Linked DNA regions of Homo sapiens. The protein of the gene in region 1 interacts with the protein of each later gene in a biochemical or structural test. Each region holds a gene or a part of one and is shown in the gene's direction. Other genes may lie near its edges.

Region 1 (4,664 bases):
GTTTAATGGCGTCGGGACCCTAACTTCATGTTTTGATTCCTGAATTCTTTTATTTATTCATTTCAAAAATTTTTACCAGGTGCCTACTCTGATTGGTACTATGTCAGGGTCCGAGGACCCTGGCAAACAAAGACATTCCTAGTCCCTGTCAGTGGGAGCTCATGGTACAGTGGGGGAAAGGATGTTAACAGTTACGTCATTTAAACACAACGTTTCAATATTATATGTGCCACAGAGAGATACAGTGATATTTGTGGGGATGGTCCCGATTTAGATCTGGAGAGGAGGGAAGGCTTGTCTTGGAATATTTAAGGTTGGACCTGAAGGATGAGTCAACTTAGGTAGAGTCAGGTGGAGAGGAGTGTTCCAGGCAGAGGTTAGTGAGTTTGAGACCACTGTGCTGGGAGCAAGGGGGTGGTATCTGGTAAGGCTGGTAGGGGATGAGCCTCTTTCCGGGACTATCTTGGACCTGGGGAGTGTAGGGCTCCTTTGCCTTGCATTGAGAAGTAGTAGTTGCAAAACTGGAGGTTATCTTCGTACGTGTTGAGGTGGTGTCTGCCATCCCCTTTGCACCATTCCAGAGCCAGATGAAGTCAGAGCTGGCAGCGGTGGCCTCGGAGTTTGGGCGACTGACACGGTTTCTGGCTGAAGAGCAGGCAGGGCTGGAACGGCGTCTCAGAGAGATGCATGAAGCCCAGCTGGGGCGTGCGGGAGCCGCGGCTAGTCGCCTTGCAGAACAGGCCGCCCAGCTCAGCCGCCTGCTGGCAGAGGCCCAGGAGCGGAGCCAGCAGGGGGGTCTCCGGCTGCTCCAGGTGAGCAATGTCCCCTCCCTGTTCCCCCAGCATTCTGTGTTGGCTGTCAGGCAGTGCTTACCAAACGCCTGTCCAGAGCTGCCTCTTTTCTCCCTGGGAGGAACCCACAGTGATTGAACCTGAAGACCAAAAACATGTTTTAAAGCTGGAAACAGAGTTAATGTCGAATGTGGTATGTGTGGCGATTATACCCAGTGAAAAGCATGAAGATTCGGTTGTAGGAGAGGTTTAAATGACAGTTGAGGAAAGTCTTTTTGACAGTGACATCCTGAAAAAGGTGAGCAAGTCGTATTGTGGAAATGACAGTATCCCTGGGCTCACAGCAGGATGAGGCGAGTTAGGTATGGCGAGGCATGGGGTGGTTGAAATGGATGTGTGTTCATTGAGGGCCGTGAGGGTGCTGCTTCTCCCTTCCTGCTCAGGTTCAGTCTCTGACTGGAGATCGGGGAACGCTGTCCCTGTGCAGCTGACACTCTCTTTATCTCTTTCTCCCTCTCCCTCTTTTTGTTTCTCTTATTCCCAGGACATCAAGGAGACTTTCAATAGGTGTGTTCCCAGTCTTTGCCCTTCGTGACCCAGTGGCATCTGGTTCCCTGTCCCTGCTTCTCTTCGGTATCCCTCTCCTCTCCTTCCTTCCCCAGGACCTGAGTTTCCATCTCCTGGACCCTCCTCTCCTTCCCCTCAGCTTTTGCTTTTCCCTCTGGGAATATCGTGGTCCCACCCCCTGCCCGGTCCCCTTCCTCCAGGTGTGAAGAGGTACAGCTGCAGCCCCCAGAGGTCTGGTCCCCTGACCCGTGCCAACCCCATAGCCATGACTTCCTGACAGATGCCATCGTGAGGAAAATGAGCCGGATGTTCTGTCAGGCTGCGAGAGGTAGGGAGGTCACCTCCACGACCTTCCTTTGCCTTTCCCTTCACAGACCTGAGACTGGGTCCTGAGGGAAGTTGGGCCCCAGGGAAACTGTGGGGCTTGAGATGGAGCAGGATCCAGGCAGCCACTCTGAGGTTGAGGTTTCAAGCCATGAGCAGGTAGACCTAGTGCAGGCAGGCCTGGAGGGTGGGGTGGGGTGGAGTGGCAGGAAGAGCCAGGCTGGGGGAAGACCTGTCAGGTATCCTAGGAACAAGAGTGAGGAGCAAGATGAGCCTGCAGGAATCTGAGGCTGGCCTCTGGGATGGTGTGGGGAGCTGGATTCAGGGAGAAAGGGGGCCCAATCTGTGGAGTTGGCTGCTGACAGGGGAACAGCCGTTCCAGCCCTGGCGTATTTGTCCTCCCTCCCTCCCAAGTGGACCTGACGCTGGACCCTGACACGGCTCACCCGGCCCTGATGCTGTCCCCTGACCGCCGGGGGGTCCGCCTGGCAGAGCGGCGGCAGGAGGTTGCTGACCATCCCAAGCGCTTCTCGGCCGACTGCTGCGTACTGGGGGCCCAGGGCTTCCGCTCCGGCCGGCACTACTGGGAGGTAGAGGTGGGCGGGCGGCGGGGCTGGGCGGTGGGTGCTGCCCGTGAATCAACCCATCATAAGGAAAAGGTGGGCCCTGGGGGTTCCTCCGTGGGCAGCGGGGATGCCAGCTCCTCGCGCCATCACCATCGCCGCCGCCGGCTCCACCTGCCCCAGCAGCCCCTGCTCCAGCGGGAAGTGTGGTGCGTGGGCACCAACGGCAAACGCTATCAGGCCCAGAGCTCCACAGAACAGACGCTGCTGAGCCCCAGTGAGAAACCAAGGCGCTTTGGTGTGTACCTGGACTATGAAGCTGGGCGCCTGGGCTTCTACAACGCAGAGACTCTAGCCCACGTGCACACCTTCTCGGCTGCCTTCCTGGGCGAGCGTGTCTTTCCTTTCTTCCGGGTGCTCTCCAAGGGCACCCGCATCAAGCTCTGCCCTTGATTATCCTGCCACCCGCAGGGGCCCCTCTGTCAGCACTTGGGGGGTGGGTGGTGGAGGGTGGCCCGTAAGTTTGAGGGCTCAAAGGCTCTTCCCACTGCTTGTTACTGTGTTGCTTCCCACTCCCCCTTGACCCCAGGCCCCTGCTTCTCCCTCTAGGAGCCTAAAGAACCCTCCTGGCCTCCAGCTCAGCCTTCTCTCACCTACTATGTCTGTCCAACAGGTCTGCATGGGTCCCTGATAATGAGAACAGCTGCCTGGTCTTCTCTCCCAGTCTGCCTAGCCCAGCCCTGGGACTGGAATTTGAGTAGGGGATGAGGGGAAATTGTAATTTCATTCCTTAACTTCCTTTTCCCCACCCCTGCTCTTCAACCTCTTTATCAGTTCTGAGGCTGGAGGGTTTGGGCAAGGCAACATCCCCATTCCAATTCCATTTTCTGATGCAGATTTTAGCTGAGGGATTTGGAAGCCATTTGGGGAGGCAGGCTGGGCCAAAGGGTAGAGCTGGGTAATAAATGTCTATTCTCCTGGGGAGGAGGGATTCTAAACTTTCCTTCCGTCCTCAATTTCTACCTCCATAGACCGGCCAGAATTTAGCTTCACTTGAGAGAGATCTGGAATGGTCGCCATGATTGAAACCACGCACCATTACATCATCATTACATTAATTACATCAACATAAATTATTTCTTCCCCCTTCCCTTTTCCAGCACTCAACCAAGGAGCAAAGCTCATCCCACCCCACACCCCTCCCAGGTCTGCTCACTGCCAGGCTCCTCTCCCCTTTGTTCAGTGGAGCTGGCTTTTCTCCCAGCCCCTTTCCATGCCTTTCACTCCATTTGGCAAGCTCTGAGGGGGAGCCTGGGGACGGGTTTGGGTCCCCAGGAGGAGAGCCTTGGGTATAATCTATTTTTCTAGGAGCCTCTTGCCTTGTCACTTGCAGCTTTCGCCCTCTGCTTTGATGGCTGAGGTGAACTCATGTTCTTTGGGAAAAGGGAAGGCGTGCTGTGGAAATAAAATGTTTATTTGCTTCTCTTGTGAGGTCTGTTCCTTCAGGTGAGGGTGTAACTCAGGATTTCTTCCTTTGCCGCCCCTGCAGTGAGAAGCCACACAACTGAACTGGTTAGTTGCAGTTAAAGGCATGCTTTGCACCTGTTACCAGGCAGGCTCCTATTTCAACAGGGATGTGGACCCTGCTCCCCATTTTAATATCTTAACCTAACTTACTAACTGTTCAGTCTACTTAGAGATGTTTGCCACACGTAGTTGAAACTGAAGCCAGAAATGCCTCATCACCATTATAAATTGAGGGGAGTAGGAAGTGGAGGGTGCATGTGGGCCTTCAATATGCTGTAGTTGCTTAGCACAGAAAATTGCAAGGGTAGTGGGGTCTCAGCCGCATGTTGAACCATTCCATCCCTGTACTGAGGTTTCTATTGGAAACTGTAATTGTAGTTTAATGGCTCACTTCTGGCCTTTCACAAGGCATCTATCCTCATGAATAAACTGTGTTTGTGTGTAGGGGGATTGAGGGCCAGGTTATAGTAGCAGTTGAAATGTTTAGTAGGGCCAACTTTATGGTTCTATTTATGAATGCTTCCAGACCAACCACCCCAAAACTTTTGACCTGAGGAATAAATTAGTTTTGAATTAAGTTCTTCTGGTGAGAACTGCCTTGCTTAAAGAATTAAAAACCCTTGACTTTCCTCAAAGACCATGTTGACAGAGACTGCTAACATGAAGCTTAAGTTTTCTGAATTATGTTCAAATCTTTAGAGGAATGAGGATTCATCTTCCACTCTTACGTGTCAGGGGTTGGACCTGCGGAGTCTGCTTTTTCTAAAAATTGACTGCAACCACTTTGAAATCAGTTCTTTCCCTCAAGAAGGTTCCCCAGGTTGAAGGTAGGCCCTGATGATCTGCACGTGGTATGTAGGACGCTGATGGGGTTTAAGTTCAGGGAAACTGC
Region 2 (4,885 bases), on another chromosome or scaffold:
CTTATGAAAGTACGATGTACAGTAACTTAATGGAAGTGCTGACTCTAGCATCAGCCTCTACCGATTGATTTTCCTCCCTTCTCTAGCCCTGGATGTCCACTTAGGGATAAAAAGAATATGGTTTTGGTTCCCATTTCTAGTTCACGTTGAATGACAGGCCTGGAGCTGTAGAATCAGGAAACCCGGATGCCTAACAGCTCAAAGATGTTTTGTTAATAGAAGGATTTTAATACGTTTTGCAAATGCATCATGCAATGAATTTTGCATGTTTATAATAAACCTTAATAACAAGTGAATCTATATTATTGATATAATCGTATCAAGTATAAAGAGAGTATTATAATAATTTTATAAGACACAATTGTGCTCTATTTGTGCAGGTTCTTGTTTCTAATCCTCTTTTCTAATTAAGTTTTAGCTGAATCCCTTGCTTCTGTGCTTTCCCTCCCTGCACATGGGCACTGTATCAGATAGATTACTTTTTAAATGTAGATAAAATTTCAAAAATGAATGGCTAGTTTACGTGATAGATTAGGCTCTTACTACATATGTGTGTGTATATATATGTATTTGATTCTACCTGCAAACAAATTTTTATTGGTGAGGACTATTTTTGAGCTGACACTCCCTCTTAGTTTCTTCATGTCACCTTTCGTCCTGGTTCCTCCGCCACTCTTCCTCTTGGGGACAACAGGAAGTGTCTGATTCCAGTCTGCCTAGTACGTTGGTACACACGTGGCATTGCCGCAGCACCTGGGCTGACCTTTGTGTGTGCGTGTGTGTGTGTTTCCTTCTTCCCTTCAGCCTGTGACTGTTGCTGACTCCAGGGGTGGGAGGGATGGGGAGACTCCCCTCTTGCTGTGTGTACTGGACACGCAGGAAGCATGCTGTCTTGCTGCCTCTGCAACGACCTGTCGTTTGCTCCAGCATGCACAAACTTCGTGAGACCAACACAGCCGTGCCCTGCAGGCACCAGCACGTGCTTTTCAGAGGCTGCGGACTTTCTTCCAGCCATTGTGGCATTGGCCTTTCCAGTCTTGGGAGGAGCGCGCTGCTTTGGTGAGACACCCCCATGCAAGGTCCTCAGAGTAGCCGGGTTCTACCACAAACAGAAACAGAATGAAAGTAGCTGTCAGTCCTTGTAGAGAGCCGCTCTGTTTCCTCCCAGAAGCATCTCCCAGCTAAGCTCGCATTATTTTTCTCCTCTGGCTGTTTGCCTGAAGTTCACAGAACACACAACCATGAAAGGCTTTTTGAGGTGAGAGGCCCAGGTGGTCCTGGCAACCCTGAGTAGAAGGAGAGACGGGGTAGGGAACGGGCCCGGCCAGAAAAGAACCATTTCTTCTGCCATCTTTTATGCACCATAGACATCGAGACTCCAGGGGGTCCTGGCTCCCCTGTCCCTGCAGCCCTGCAGGTCAGTGCATGATCTGGGTTCGTGTCCTGACCAGGTGCTCCTCCTTTGATCCGAGGGGAAAGGGACTGGTTTATAGAAAGAGCCTAGGAGACAAAAGGGCCAGTCCCCCTGCCCAGAATGGAGCAGCAGCAGGACAGACCCCCACGAGGCCCCCCAGAGAGGAGGAAGATCCCACGGAGGAACACATGAGGTTAGGGACCCTTGTTCAGCACCCCAAACAGCCTGCCTGTTTAAAGCAGGCAGCAGGCTTAGGCCTTCCCTGCAACCCCAACACCCACAAGTTTGTTTCTCTAGGAAACACATTCACTGTCTCAGCTGGCTGTTACTCTCTCAGACCATATGGCAAAGTTTTCCAAGAAAATGCCCCGACAGGGGTGCCCAGCACACTGCCTGAGGGACAACAGACATCAGAACAAACCCCCAGAGAGAAACAGTCAAAATCAGGGCCCGGTGCAGTGTTGTCATGTGGAACCTGCTTTATCCATTGCTGAGTGTTGAATGTGGGTAATGGTTAGGGCTTTCCAGATCTCAGCAGCCAAAGACAGTTATTGTTGGAAGACTGTCATGTAGATAACCATGAGCAATGGCTCGCCTCAGAATCAGTTCATAAAATTCTATGGTACTGGCCCCTTCGTGGGTATTGTGTGAAATGAGATGGTGGCGAGGGGTGCGCTGTGGAACTGCCGCAGCCACGCAGGAGGTCCCTGGGGGATGCTTTGGGAAGTCCTTGCCCCTGAGCACTGCCTGATTGCCAGGGCCTGTGGAGGTCTAGGCCGCCTGGCAGAATCTAGCACCGTCCGAATCCCCGCAGGACCCATGGAGCTATGACCACACCAGGCCATTCAAATGGCTCTGCATTATCTTCCCTTGGAAGGTGGCCACTCCTCGGTGGCAGGGCCTTTCCCTGAGGCTGCAGGCCGTGGGCTGGCAGCCCGTCTCTTGGCATTTCAATTGAAGGTCACCAGGTGCTGGGTTTGAAAGGAAGTCACTGGAGTGCTGCCAGGGGCCGCCCTCCAAGGTTAATGAGAGGCCCACATCCAGGCAAGAACTAATTCAAAAGGCAGATCAGAAACCACAGGAGTCAAAATTATTGCTCCGGCAGTGCTTCCCTTCCTTTCATCCACTGGCCTCGTGTGGTCCATGCAGGGCCACTGTCTGCCCTTTCTGATGCCACGTATTAGGCTTTCTTACTCAGAATTTTGATAGAAAACCATGGGGCCAAGAGCTCTGGAAGCCTGGCCGGAAAGACCAAGGTTCATGCAGCCCAACAAATGATTGTTGAGCACCTCTCGGAGCCAAAGTCCTTAGGCGAGTGTGGTGACTTCCTGGAAGGAGGATGCAGACTTCCAGAGAGCCCCCCCAACGGACGTGCTGAGAAGGGAGAGGGAGGCGGGGGCTGTAGTCAGGAAGGAGCCAGAGAAGAACAGGGTTTGGGTGCATCCAGAAATATGCCTGCAGTAGGAGGGAGAGGAAGGGGTGCCACCGTCAACGGCTTCCCATCGGAGGTGGTTGGTGCAGATGGAAGTTTCTGTCTGCTGGCCCTCAAGAGAGTGTTTTGCCAGGGACACAGTCTGTTCCTCCTCAGAAAACACCCCCCAAATGCTAACAACATCCCCACCAGCTGCTAGAAGCCCCTTTCCCCTCCCCACCTTGAAGTAGCTCATAGTTCTCTGGGCAGAGCCAGACCATCCAGTGTACCCCAGAGGCCAGTAGGTTCCTGCCCATTTTCCTCTCTGGCTTCCTGCCAAGAATTATGGCAGCTGAGGATGAATGGAGAAGTAAAAACAACTAACACCGCACAACTAACAACTAACACCGCAGTTCCCACCTGGGTTCCACTTAGCAGGAGACATTTCGGAGGGTTTTTTTTGTTTTTGTTCCTGTTTTTTTTTTTTTTGCTGGAATTTGTTTTCTCAGTACTGAAAAGAGAAAAAGTGACAATCTTGTATTTTTAAAAGCCTCGGAAAGGTGATACCATCTGACAGTCATTTTCTCACGTTGGTCTTCTAAAGTCACCTATTTCTTGTGTGTGCACATCACACCATTTCCTGTTTCTTTATAACCCGACAAGGGTAGGAGTGCCTGTTTCCCCTGCTGGGCACACCAGACAATCGTAATCACAAAACAGACACTGAGCCAGGGGCCCAAAGGGTGTGATCATGAGAGTTACCGGGACAGCAGTAGGCATGACAGTCACCAGGAAGGACAAGGGTGCTCTGTTGTTAGTGGCCACACACCAATTTGACAAGGAGTGTTGCGAAATTTTTATTTATTTATTTATTTATTTTGAGATGGAGTTTCACTCTTGTTGCCCAGGCTGGAGTGCGGTGGTACAATCTCGGCTCACTGCAACCTCCACCTCCCAGGTTCAAGCGATTCTCCTGCCTCAGCCTCCCAAGTACCTGGGACTACAGGTGCGTGCCACCACACCCAGCTAAATTTTGTGTTTTTAGTAGAGATGGGGTTTCACCATGTTGGCCAGGATGGTCTTGAACCCCTGACCTCATGATCTGCCTGCCTCGGCCTCCCAAAGTGCTGGGATTACAGGCATGAGCCACCACGCCCAGCCAAAATATTTTTTTAAAGTCATTTTCCTTAAGCTGCTTGGGCTACATGTGAAATACACTGGACGGTCAACATTCCTGTCTCCTCCCATTTGGGCTGATGCAGCAGATCCAGGGAATGTTACCTGTTTCTGCTGCTAGAAGATCCAGGAAATTGGGAAGGTTACCTGACGCACACATGGATGAAGGCCATCATCTAGAAATGGGGTCAACCACAATTGTGTTAATTCCGTAGTGTCAGGGATTCTTCGGGAAGGTCAACAGTATGAAGGATTCTGACCCCTGTGCCTCCCATTTATGTGATCAGGTGACAGTTAATAACCGTGGAGGTCACACTCAGCCATCCAACAGCCTTACAGTGACCCTACACAAAAGCCCCCAAATTCCAAAGACTTTTTCTTAACCTAAAGGAAGAAATTATTTGTTAATTCCAGTAGAGCAACTGAATATACTGGGCTATTTGTACTTTTTTATAGAGAACTTTAATAATAATTCTTTAAAAATGAGTTTTTAGAACAAAGCAACTGACGATTTCCTAAGATTCCAATGCCCTGGAGCTTGTAGGAGGACTTAGCCTGGGTCAGCTGGAGCACCCCCGACCTGATCTCCCACTGCCAGATTTTCCCATGCTCCTAGGGTATGGAGTCCACGTGGGAATGACTGCAAGTTCAGGTGGAACTTGGCCGACTGATGCTCTGCGAGTTTTTAATAGACACTGGGGACAACTGCTTAAGGTTTAGAAACTTCCAAACCACAGGAAAGACATTTTTAGTGTCCCCCATCCAGAGGCAGCCCTGGAATAGGATTCCCAGGGGTTTCTGGGACCCCTTTCCTTGCTCCGTGAGGCTCTGTGGCCATCTTTTGGCAGGAGGAGGATGCTTCCTTGGCTCTGTGCCCAGACCCG

What was found.
Region 2: the proteins of TRIM41 (region 1) and PRKCA form a complex in vitro, tested with the Homo sapiens proteins (one study listed by BioGRID).

The regions. Positions count from the first base shown.
Region 1 is NC_000005.10:181,232,078-181,236,741, forward strand, and holds the end of TRIM41 (E3 ubiquitin-protein ligase TRIM41), read left to right. Parts: intron 1-581; coding exon 582-812; intron 813-1,335; coding exon 1,336-1,358; intron 1,359-1,558; coding exon 1,559-1,686; intron 1,687-2,096; coding exon 2,097-2,698; 3' UTR 2,699-2,854; coding exon of another isoform or gene 2,855-3,013; 3' UTR 3,014-3,276; coding exon of another isoform or gene 3,277-3,327; 3' UTR 3,328-3,731; downstream 3,732-4,664.
Region 2 is NC_000017.11:66,805,023-66,809,907, forward strand, and holds part of PRKCA (protein kinase C alpha type), read left to right. Parts: 3' UTR 1-4,885. UniProt on the Homo sapiens protein: Calcium-activated, phospholipid- and diacylglycerol (DAG)-dependent serine/threonine-protein kinase that is involved in positive and negative regulation of cell proliferation, apoptosis, differentiation, migration and adhesion, tumorigenesis, cardiac hypertrophy, angiogenesis, platelet function and inflammation, by directly phosphorylating targets such as RAF1, BCL2, CSPG4, TNNT2/CTNT, or activating signaling cascade involving MAPK1/3 (ERK1/2) and RAP1GAP.